Regions from separate parts of the Homo sapiens genome. Here all the other regions are reported to be linked to region 1. The links are microRNA targets in miRTarBase. Many come from high-throughput screens and were not tested one by one. Region 1 holds a microRNA gene; each other region holds the end of a gene's coding sequence.

Region 1 (4,068 bases):
ACACCTAGGTTCAGCTGATTGAAAGCACATACTCTGTTACACCATGATGCCTTCTTTCAAGAGGAGCTGGTTAGGGAAGATCATGACTTATATTTGTGGACATAAGAGGGTGGCATTTAGAAATTCAGGTCTTTGGCTCAGGAGAGAATTTGAGATTACAAAGAGTGCTGTCATCTACAGCGATATGAGGAAATCAGTCTTTTACAAATTAGATTCGACTTCCCTTCTTGGGAGTGCATACACTAATTATGTATTATAACAGTAGCTTATGTCTTGGTTCCATAGTATACTGGCATTTAAAAACCATTTGTTTTATTATCACCTTATTTTAAATACAGAAAAAATTTTAACAACCTTTGGTACCAGAACTATAATCTAATGGTTCTCAGAATTGATAGATTTTTATGAGTCTGATAAATATGGTACAGACTAAAGAATGGGTTATGGCCTGAGACATTTTTCTAACCAAAGCTATATCAAGTTATGTAATTTTAAGGCTATAATTCAAGGTGTTTTTTTTGCAGTTTAAGTTCCTAGGGCTGTTTCTTTACTGGCTCAAATTCAAGACTTAAAATGTACAGATTTTACAGAGATTCCTCTGAAGAGCTTTCTCCTGTGGAGAAGATGGTAGTGAGTTCTCTTTCTAAGAGCTCCTGTTGGATTTTTCATCCTGAAGGTTTGTGTTGAAGAGGCAATATGTTTCTTCATGGAAAAAGATTTTGAGGGAAAAATAAGTGGTTATTTATAATTTATGAATGACTATGAAAATATTGTAATGTCCTCAAAGTGCAGTTTAGCCTACAAATATCAGTGATACCAACTTTTATAAGCATCAGTCATTAATCATCATCTATGTTGCAGCTAAGTGGAAATCATTACATTCATTTATATGATCTGTGAATAAGTCAAAAATGGAATTGAAATTGGGGGTTAATTGCATGACCAGACAGTGATAGTGTCTGTTCGTGAAGCTTTGCCTTCTGAAGTATGTGGTTTCTTTATGATCACTATCTCATTGAAGTTTTGAACCTTACTCATTATTTTGATTCTGAATAAGTATTCTTCTCAGTTGAATACATTTGCAATTGGGTTTTCATTTCATGAAGTTTTGAGTCAGTGGCATGCATCCTTTATCCCCAGACCATTTTCCTCTCTTCAGCAGCATGTTGTCTCCTGAATGTATACATCACACCCTTCTTCCCTGATGCTCCCATTCTGCTTGCTCTGGTGGAGATATTGCACATTACTAAGTTGCATGTTGTCACGGCCTCAATGCAATTTAGTGTGTGTGATATTTTCACATGAGTGCATGCACACGGGTATGGCTCTTGCTTGCTGGGATTACAGCTTTTCAGTGCCAGTGGGTGGGTGTCCTGATGAATTAGATAAGACAGTGTGTATGCCATGCGATTCTCATTTGGAAAGTGAACATGCTTCCCATCGGTACCTTCCAATTTTGGAGAATTAAAAGTATTTGGATTAAAAAAAGTCAGCAATGATCATTTAGTAAATCAGTGTTTCCATTTTTTACTTTGAGCAAATGAAATATTTATTACAAATTCTCATTGATTTAAGAGTATAAACAATATTTAAATGTATAAGGAAGAATGTAAAGCTGTAAGAAAATGTATTTTCATTTATTTGAAGAAATCTCTCCCAACACTGGAATAGAGAAGCAGAAATCTCTTATGCATATTTGGGGAAATTAAATTAACTGGAGTTCTTAAATAATAATCAAGACAGTAAAGGTATGCTTAACCTACCTGATGAAAGATTCATCTCATAAACTTAAGTTTCCAAGGTAAATTACCTTAAAAATGTGTCTTTTACTTTCTCATTGTGATGCTTCGAAAACTGCTAAATTCATTTTAGTGGGCTAATAATGGAACTAGTTTTGAAATACACGTTTACTATTTGCCTATGTAATTGAAACAACCCCTTGTTATTTTTTTAGTTAGCATTAGAGTAAGCATCCACAATCACTAGGCATTGTCAAGGACACAAAACCATGTATTACTGTATGAAAATATTGAATTAATATTTACTACTACCATAGCCTCCAGATGATCTATTGTGATGCTGTCATTGTATGTTTCTGTGTTTCACCACTGTTTTGGAGGGTGAGAATGGAAGAATTCCACGTAAGCAGCTCATCCCCTGTGCCCTTCAGCAGCTCGGCCGTTCCCCTCATGCTGGAAATCTAATGTCAGCCAGGTTGCTATATGACACCCTGTGGAGCTGGGTTTCCAGGGCAGATTAATCAAGAAAGGGAAGATGTGACCTCTCAAGGGAGGTTGGGGCTGGGAAGGGGTGGGTAGAGAGAGATTTGTTAAAGGATACAAAAATTACTTAGAAGGCATAAGTTCTAATGTTCTACAGCACTGTAGAATGACTGTAGTTCAACAATAAATTATATCATTTCAAGTAGCTAGAAGGAAGATACAGAATGCTCCCAACAAAAGAAATGAGGCCAGGTACGGTGGCTCACGCCTCAAATCCCAGCACTTTGGGAGGCCAAGGCGGGCAGATCACCTGAGGTCAGGAGTTCAAGACCAGCCTGGCCAACATGGAGAAACCCCATCTCCACTAAAAATACAAAAATTAGCTGGGCTTGGTGGCATGCACCTGTAGTCCTAGCTACTCGGGAGGCTCAGGTGGGAGAATCTCTTGAACCCAGGTGGTGGAGGTTGCAGTGAGCTGTGGTCATGCCACTGTACTGCAGCCTGGGCGACAGTGAGACTCTATCTCAAAAAAAAAAAAAAAAACCAAAATGATAAATGATCAAGATGATGGATATGCCAATTACCCCTATCTGATTACTATACATTATATGTATTGAAACATTATTATGTACCCCATAAATATGTAGAGAGCAGTCAAGGGAGCTGGCGAGTACTTTTCCCACTGGTTATTGTATATACTGTGTCTCTAAAAGCTGACTGGTCTCTCCCACCAGCTCACTTTCTACTTGAGACATACCATATTGCAGTGAGGCTAGAATACTGGGAAGGGGAATGACAGTCCTTTAGAAAAGAGGGTGGAACCAGTGTAAGGAAATGTGGAGGAGGCAGAATTTCACTTTGGACTCTTCACTCCTCCTTTTCTTCATTATTTATCTTCTTCCTTAGACAGGTAATTCTTACTCAGCTGTGGTCTAAGGCCCTGTGTACACTGAGTTTATAGAGCTTCTGGACTGGTTTGTTATTCTCCCCATCCCACTCCTTGCTTCAAATATCATTCCATTAAAAGCAGGTCATCTGATTAAATCCTGAATTGTCTTGTTATTTTTTTCTTACTCAGTTTAGAAAAGTAGCAAGCACAATCTGGTTTGTCAGAAAAGAGAGGGTTGAGAGCTAAAGTTAAGTATCAGGAAACGTGTGAAAAAGTAAGTTTCATCCTAGGATTTATAAAGGATGAAGATCAAGAGCTGGTTAGGAAGAGTTAACATTGTAAACAATCATTTGAAGTCAATTCAAGCTTCTGGTGCAGAGGAGTTATTATTAAATATAGTTGTGTAAAGGAGGCATGGATATTCACACCTTTAGTGCCATACGGTATAAATATACAGTAGGCTTTATTAGGGGAAAATCCTAGCTGAGAAAAAGCTGATCCTAACTAACTCTTGGAACTTTTATTCCACAGAGAGGTATGCTTAGGTGGGGCATAGCTGGATTGGATGCACGATGGCCTACCTTCCAATGGACAGGAATCCTGCTCTATAATAGTCTATATATAGTATGGGACAGGAGAACATCTCTAAGACTGTGTAGTAATGGGAGGTCTATGAATAGGGAATAGGCCTTGTTAGAAAACCGTGCCTCTAGCTCAGTGGCTGGTGTGTCAGTCTCTTCTTCCATTGAGCTAAATCACGTCCATCTGAGCTACCAAAAGGAGGGAGGAAAAGAACCTCCAGAGTTTGATTCTCATCAACTATTGAGTGCTAGGAGAGCTTGGACTAAAATTAAAGAACAACTGTCAATAATCTTTGAAGAATCACTGAAGAAAAAGGTCCCAGAAAACCAAGAAAAGGCAGATATTTTTTGAGACATAAAGGTGGAGGAAGCGTAT
Region 2 (4,068 bases), not on the chromosome of region 1:
GAAGGCGGGGGCTGTATTTGGGAGGTGGCTTGGGATGAAGCTGGAAAGCAGGGGAAGGAGAGAGCCCTGCTCACCCTGTGCTCTGAGGGCCCAGCCCCTGGCACTGCCCTGCACCAGCCACCTCCCAGACAAGAGCTGGTCTCCACTCCTGTGTTTCTCCGGGGCTGGGAGCCAGGGGCCACCTGGTAGTTTCCTCAGGTTCCCGTAAATCACTGCCATCAGCCCAGCATGTTGGCTGCCAGAGGTGAGTGTGTAGAGATGGACTGGAGCGGATGGATCCCTGGCCACCCCCTGACTGTGCTCCTGGATCTGTCTGTGGGACCCTGGGGAGGCCTGACCAGGATGACAGGGTCTCACCTTGGCTGGCCTCACTGCATTCTAGAGAAAGGCGCCTCTGTCACCCTCGCCCACATAAGGACTGTAGTCTCTGCTCCTCCATGGTCTTCCTAATGGGAGGCCAGCCCTGCCCAAGCCCCGGGCATGTACCAGCTTTCCTCCGCCCTCCACAGCCCTCGCAGGCTTCCTTGCAGGCTTCGGGAGGTACTGGGTGTGCACTAACCCTGTCCCATTGCTTTGCAGAGGAAGGCTTGCTGTACCGGGCACGCTACTTTGGCGACACAGATATGTACCACAGAGCACAGAAGATGGGCACCCCCAGCTGCAGCCGACTGTCAGAGGTGCAGGCCTCCCTGCATGGATAGTCCTGGGCCAGCCACACCACCGAGGTCCAAGTATGAGCCAGGGCTGCCTCCACCCTGCAACTCCTGGCAGCTTTGGCCCTGGTCATGAGCAGAGGAGGGAGGGGGAGAAAGGGAGGAAGCCTGGTGATTGTGGCAAAGACTCCTGTCCCCAGCCTGACCTCCAGCCTCCAGAGACCGAGCAGCTGTGGGGCCTGCTGGGAAACCAAGGTCGGTTTCCGCCCTCTAGCGATGCTGTCCTCCCCACTCCTCCGCTCTGCTCCCTGGCTCCAGGGGTGTGGGGGACCCCAGAACCAGGCAGAGTGGGAACTTGAAACTGTTGCTGAGGGCCACCCGGGGCTTCTTGGTCCACTCCAGCCATCAGTCAGCACGGCCCTTTCTCCAGCACAGCAGACTATTGTCCGTGCCCTGGTATTTAGGCCATCACATATGGTGGGGCCCAAGAGAGCCCCATATGCACACTGCCTGCCTGATACCAGGAAGAACCATGTGGGAATAGGTGGGCCAAGAGCCCTCCCCTTTCTCCATCCCTCCAGCTAGGAGGAAATGGAGCAAGATGAACAGGCAGCCACGAGGTGGGTGGGAGCTGGCAGTCTTGGTGGCGGCAGGGGCCGCGGGCCCTGACCACCCCCCTCTGGTGGGATCTGAGGCACTCTCTCGAATGCCGTCACACCTGGCAGCCTGGAAGCCACAGGCATCCGGCCTTGCCCAGGCATCTCGCCTGCGGTCTGAGGAAGGGAACAGAAGGTCATGAGTTCAGGGTCAGACGCAGCCGCTCAGCACAGGAGGGGTGGAGGGGAAATGAGAGTTGCTGGTAGCAGGCTCCCTCCTTCTGCAGCCCGGCGAATGGGGGCGCTGGGCTCTGTTCCCAGCGTTTGCCAGAGGTGGCCACTTCAGCCAAGCCCAGAGAAGTGTGGGCAGAAGCAGTGAAGGTTCTTCTCTGTGTGGGTGCCCTGCCCACCCCCTCCTTTGCCTGTGTCCTCCCGGCCTGGATCCATGGCTGACTCTGCCTGGAGGCCATTTGTGCCTGCCTCTGTGCTGCCGCAGGAGGGCAGGCCGCAAGTGGGGTTGGTGGGGGTCGAGCGGGCAGCACGGTGCAGCGGTGCAGTGGCAAGGGGGGCTACTTGTGTGGCATAAGCTAGAGGAGCCGGTGCCGCCTGAATGCCGAGCTAACTGTTGCCACTCTCCTCCCCAGACTATGAAATCCCTGGAGAATTTTTGGTGACATGCACTGAGCCAAGGTGATGGACTGTATATTTGAGGAAAGACAAACAAAGAAACAAAATTAAAATGGAATTGGAGGCCGAACGCTGCACAGCTGCCCTCTCTCTCACCCAGTAAATGCAGAAAGCTCTTAGGACAGACAGAAAACCTGCCATGGGGCTGCTTCCCTCCCTCGCAGGGCTGGCGGAGGCTCCGCATCGCCTCTCTCCTAGGATACAGAAACCATGGCAACGAAAGTAGAATGTAAAACTCGCAGCAGATATCAGTGGGAAGGGCTGGGGGAGGGGGCACCCAGCTGCCTTTCCTCCCTCACAGGAGCCACCACCAGCCACCTCTCAGGAGAAGCCAGAGGCCCTGGCCAAAGATAGGAGGAAGAAAGAGAACTCTCCATAGAATGTAATTTATAGATGCGTGTATATGTATATATATCTATTTATATGTAAATAGGCATATATGAAGATATATATATATATAGTCTACTTTTTAAACTCTGCAGGGATTTGGTTAAGTTGTTGAGCTGATTTCTTCCATGTTTTAGAAAATGAGGCCTGTTTGGGGAAGGTACCCTGGTGATGTTTTTGCTAGACATTAGCTGTAGCTGACAGCATAAGGAGAGTCGCATCAGAGCTTTTCACAGCCCCCCGAAACCCCAGCCTGGTTTTGATGGCAGCAGTAATCATGATAGTGTGAACCCGCGAAGGCCTCAGGATTATGGTTAACCTGGAGAGGAGCAGGCCATGGAGGCAGGTGCCAGGTCAGTATTGAGTCACAGTAGAGGCCCCACAAGGACCTGCTTGGGTGAGACCACCTCTCCCCTCTCAGCAGCGCTGGTGGGCTCTTTGTCCTGGTGCCCAGGAGCCCTCCAGCCCCCTGCCCACAGAAGGGAAGGCCTGCAGAGGGGGCCAGGATCTACCTAACCATTTCCCCACCCCTAAGTCCCTCAGTGGGCTTTGCCTTATAGGTGCCACAGGGCACAGCTCCATCATTGCCACTGGTTTTTCCTAAGTCATGCACCAAGGACTTCAGAAAGTTCTTCCTCCGAGTCAGTCAGTGGTGCCGGGACCCCAGGGCAGCCTCCTCGACTCCTGAAGAAAAGGCAGTGCCCGTGGCTGCCTCTGTCTTCACTCGCTGTTGATGTGACCGCCAGGCCTCCTCTCGTACCTTGGACAAAGGATACACCTGAACCAGAATAGTTTTCTTACCCTCACATTGAAATGAGGATTTTGCTTAAAACAGCACTTGCCGCCAGTGGGAGGAGGGAGGTTTTATTTATTCCCACAGTTTCTCCTGGGCCTTCTGGAATGACCATGTTTTCCTGTGGCGGTGGGTGTGTCATTGCGCCCGCCGTCTTCCAAAGCCTTACTTCCCCAAGCTGCCAGCCAGGAGGTGATAACCACCCTCCCAGAGTTTCTCTCGGCTCTTTTTTTAAAAGTCCCCCAACAAATAGGATTCTTGCTGGGAAAGGAAGTTCGGTAAGGAAATGTCAAATCTGGTTTTTAAACAAGGTCCAACCCTGCAATGAAGCAGCCACTTCAGCCCAGAGAGATTATAAGAACTGATGTGGCCAGAGTGCCTACCCACTGTGGCCCCGGTGCTCTGCCCCCACGCCCCGACCATCTGGTCTTGGTAGATGTCCCTAGACGGGCTGAGCCATGTGCAATAAGAACATAGATCCTAAAGGATCCTCTGGAAGCTGTATTTCTTGAATTAGAATTCTCAAATTGTACATCTGTTAATATATGTTTATTATGTGACTGGCCGTGGTGGGTCTGCATTGAGCAGGGAGGCCTAAGGGGTGGGGGGGAGGGGGCACAAGCCCCTGCTGCTGCTGACACTGTCCAGCCTGTGCCACAAGGAGCTCTAGATGATGAGCCTGAATTTCCCCCGACCCCTGGCCCTGGCTAACAGCCACTTAAGCCACACATGCTGTTCCAGAACTAACTCCATCCAGGCAGAGGGGTGCTCAGGTGACTGGGGGGCTGCAGGACCTGAGCAGTCTGGGTCCCTGGGGTCCCCAGCGCCAGTCCTGGCTGGGCATCTGGGCCACGACCATCACCCTCTGCTTTTCCCTCTCCCAATCCCTCCCCCCCACACCCTCAGGCCTGCCATGTGCCCGCAGAGCATTCGAAATTCCCGGCCCCAGCCT
Region 3 (4,068 bases), not on the chromosome of region 1:
GCCTTAAAACTATGTCCAGGGTTTGAGATATGTCTATTTTAATATAGTAAGTACTTTATGTTCCTTTAGGGTATAATACACGCATCAGAATGCCCATAGAAATAATCCTGAAAAAGACTGACTGGCCTTCTCTTAAAACCTGTTATTTTCTTGCAAGTAATTTACAGAGTGTGTCAAATGAGGACACAAGAAGCTTACAATGTGTACTTTAATTTTTTTTATTTTTTCAATAAAGGGACAAAATGGGTGTATGAACAGGTTAATGCAGACAACTGCCAAAAAAACACAGACAGTGGTTTTTCCAATAGAACTTAACAAAGACCAGAAACAAATACAATAAAAAGCCAGGTTGTAATGACCTTTGGTCATCTAAATAAAAAAAAAAATAAAAACAAAGAAAAATAAAAGATCAAATTAAGTGCCTCTGTTTTGAACAGGGCACATAAGCAATAATAAATAGTGACTCCCATAGTAAAAGATAAAATTTCAAGTTACGACAAACAGCTTTCATTACAGGAATAGAAAAGGCCAATAACAAAATATTCTGCATTGCCATTTACAAAAAAGTATTGACTAAAGCGGGCTTTCTCTTTAATATGCTTTGCATATGAAATTCTTTCCAATCTAAATATAAAGCACCATTTAGTTTTTGGCAATGAAAAAAACTGCAAAACATTGGTTTTTTTTTTTTTTTCCTTTTTTTTTCTTTCTTTCTTTTACTGCATATGAAGGTAAGATGCTGGAATGTAGGGTGATAGAAGGAAAGGGACAAAAAGCACACTACATAACAAACCAACGTTATTAGCTTGCAGTACTGCATACAGTATGGCAGCAGGAAAAAGGAACAAAAAAGGATATGTACAACCCCTATGACAGCCATCCATGTGACATTCTAGCAGGCTCCCCCAAACCGCCATTATATGGCTTCTCATCTGTAATGTCACACTTTTTTGTTTCTCTCTTTTTTTTTTTTTTGAAGCATACAAATAATTTGCACTATATTATCCTGCCAAATTAAAAAAATATACTGTGGCAGCCTGTCTTTTTTTTTTCCACTACCAAAAAAGGTACATTGATACCTTTTAAGAGAACAAGCAACAGTTAAAAATACAAGCTTCAATATAAATACTATAGTGCCTAACACTAGATGAACATTTAATTCAAATACCATTCTAGAAATACAGAAAAAAGACCATAAATGTATTTTAGCATAGGAATCAACATGAGTGTGCATTTTCCTATATTTAAGTACTATATAATCTTAAACCTTTCCCCAATGTATGTTTTTTTTTTTTACAACCTGAAGAGCGGTGTGTATCCAAGGCATAGAATTTCCACTACCATTTTTAAATGGATAACAAGTCTTGTAACACCACCAAGACAATGGAACCCTAAAATGCAGTTCCCCCCTAAACATAATGAAGTGTTTTTTAAAAAAAATTTTTCTTAACATTTATATTTAAAAAAGTTTTGTACAAAAAAATCCTTGCACTGTAGAAGCGAAAGCAATCATTCATTTCTATGTTAAGTGTATTCTGTTTCCATTCACAGCGCTTGCAATGTTGCGTCCAAGTAAGTAAGCTCAATAGTCAAGTAAATGGCTGGCAAAGTTTTTTTTTTTTTAGTTTTTAAAAAATGCTCCTCAATGAGATTGTGTTCAATTTTTTTTCAGCATTCTTGCAACTTTTCCCTTAAGTATAGACCTGTAAACTGGGAAAATTGTACAGTGCACTTAATTGTCCTATCTGAGCAGGTTTATTTTATACTCAACCTCTGTATCTCTGATTAGAGAAAAGATACAGATATCACAGGCAGAGTCAAGTGCTATTTGAACACCAACTGGGGCAGATGCTAGCTTAATAAAAAAGAAAAAATTAAAAAAATAAAAATAAAAACAATGAATCCTCTTCCATGTTAACACAAATAGCACACAGTGTATGGAAAAGAAATGAAGTACAACTTTTAGGGAGCACAGACATATATACTGCTACTCTTAAAATTCTTTCTCTTCTTTTTTTAAGAATGTCACATTTAAATGCAAGTCTTAAGAATTCATAGTTAATCATCATTGTATCAATATTAGCTTATATACCTGTTCTAGTTTTAAATGGCAAATAGTACCACGTTGTGCTAATAAATCATATTATTTTCTTCTGTTCCCCTCTGTCAAACCTTATTGTCAGCCTCTTCCTTTCAATATGGTATACAAGGTCTTAAAGTTTATCATTTGATTGTCCACTTGACAACCAAGTAGATCTGGATCTATTTCTTTTGGTGCCAGTATTTTTAAAAAGACATTATTAAAGCAAATATCTTCATAAAATGAACTCCTTACTAGTGTATTTAATTGCGTTCCAGGGCTTTTGCACATTACACATTCAATTTAATCATTGTTTAAAAAAAATAAAACTTTGGGCAAAACAGCCCATTTCTTTTAAGCTCTCACCAGGAGCAAAGTAGCTTTTATACTGGTATAATCAGTTTTGTTTATAAAATTAAACTAAAGGAAAAATGATGATTAACTAGGACATAATGGGTCATCTTTTTAGGTAGCCATTGTTGTGAGAAATACAATATAGAATTATATGCTAGTTCCTAAGGTTTATTACCTCACCCAATGCTGAATTAAGCTACAAGTTTATAACAAGTAGAAAGAACCATCGATGTGGTTTTAATAGATCCAAGGCACTCATATTTTAAAACCAAATGATAGAATAAACTTGTTCTGTTTTTCTGTTAATTTGTCAATTCAAGGCCTTTTTTCTTCCTTTCCAATTGATACATTTAACCCTTTAGAGACAGACATTTAGCTCATAGAGATTTTTTTTCAGTGCTATCTATTCTGTCTATAGAGGGTTAATCCAAAGACTGTTTTTCCTCCTCACGTTATAAAATAAAACTGTACATGATATGTATTACAGAATGTATGCAGCATGGTCTTTTTCTCTCTCTCTCTCTTTTTCTCTCAGAACGGAACTGGAAACAGCAACATGTTTGCTCAGCAACGAATTAGGGACAATTTAAAATAGCCATAACATACCATACATGCTGTCTAAGTTTAAAAAAAAACATACACAACATGTAAATTATTGCACAAGAGAAAGGCTCAAAGTTTGCGTAAAATGCAATAGTATTGCCCCATACAGATCATGCATTCAAACGGTGAGAACATAAAGGAAAAAAAAAAAAAAGGAAAAAGAAAAAAGAAAAAGAAAAAGAAAAAAAACAGGTGTGCTGGTGACAAGCACTCTCATATTCTTAGCTTCGTTACTTCTGTTTGTTTGTTTGTTTGTTTAAATCACATGGGACTAGAAAAAAATCCTACAGGGAGTGGGGCTGGAGGGCGATGGGGAAGGGGAGTGGTGAAAAAGGGGGTGTCAGGTGGGAGTGAGGGAGGGGTATTAATATACCTCTATTCAGTTTTTATATCATTATTCAACACTCGATCACTGTGCCATTTTTTCATGTGTTTCTCCAGGGTACTGTACACGCTAAAAGGCATCTTACAAATTTCACATTTGTAAACGTCCTTCCCCACCTGGCCATGCGTTTTCATGTGCCTGGTGAGCTTGCTACTCTGGGCACAGGCATAGTTGCACAGCTCGCATTTATAAGGCCTTTCGCCCGTGTGGCTTCTCCTGTGGACAGTGAGATTGCTACAGTTCTTGAAGACTTTCCCACAGTACTCACAAGTGTCGCTGCGTCTGCCCTCTTTTGAGCTGGGCCTGCCCGGGCCCGGACCACTAATATGGGGCGTGCTCCCTCCACTTCCCGTGCCGCTGCGCCCCGAGATCCCTCCGTCCAGCTCCCCGGGCGGTGTGGAGAAGCGCAAACTCCCGTTCTCCGAGGAGTGCTCCGACGAGGAGGCAAAAGGCGATTGTCTGGAGTCTCCGAAGCTAAGGAAGGGATCTTTGAGCTGCCTGGAGGCCGCGTAGCCGGCGAGCCACTGCGAGTACACGTTCTCCGTGTTGGGCATCGCGGCCGGGGGCAGGTCGAACTCCTTCTCGAGCTTGATGCGCTTAGAGAAGGGGCTCAGCGAGCTGGGGCTGCCCAGCAGCAGCTTTTTGG

What was found. The annotated mature microRNA hsa-miR-32-5p reads UAUUGCACAUUACUAAGUUGCA and lies in region 1 at 1,235-1,256, shown strand. An mRNA with a match to its seed (bases 2 to 7 or 8) in the 3' UTR can be bound and repressed. Matches are read on the target gene's strand: a 7mer-m8 pairs with bases 2 to 8, a 7mer-A1 pairs with bases 2 to 7 and ends in A, and an 8mer does both.
Region 2: miRTarBase lists DNAJB12 as a target of hsa-miR-32-5p. Seed matches in the 3' UTR shown: 8mer at 3,577-3,584.
Region 3: miRTarBase lists BCL11A as a target of hsa-miR-32-5p. Seed matches in the 3' UTR shown: 8mer at 3,088-3,095.

The regions. Positions count from the first base shown.
Region 1 is chr9:109,043,460-109,047,527 of GRCh38, reverse strand. It overlaps MIR32 (microRNA 32), which reads left to right and starts at 1,230; the gene lies at 1,230-1,299. All of the region lies in intron 14 of TMEM245 (transmembrane protein 245), which reads left to right.
Region 2 is chr10:72,332,443-72,336,510 of GRCh38, reverse strand. DNAJB12 (DnaJ heat shock protein family (Hsp40) member B12) reads left to right here. Exons shown (of 9, transcript NM_017626.7): 8 at 580-731; 9 at 1,894-3,648. The coding sequence ends at 701. Among named protein-coding and RNA genes, the nearest start is that of DNAJB12, 20 kb to the left of the region's middle. RefSeq lists enhancers at 605-724, 1,285-1,694.
Region 3 is chr2:60,456,992-60,461,059 of GRCh38, forward strand. BCL11A (BCL11 transcription factor A) reads right to left here. Exons shown (of 4, transcript NM_022893.4): 4 at 203-4,068. The coding sequence ends at 3,413. Among named protein-coding and RNA genes, the nearest start is that of MIR4432HG, 68 kb to the left of the region's middle.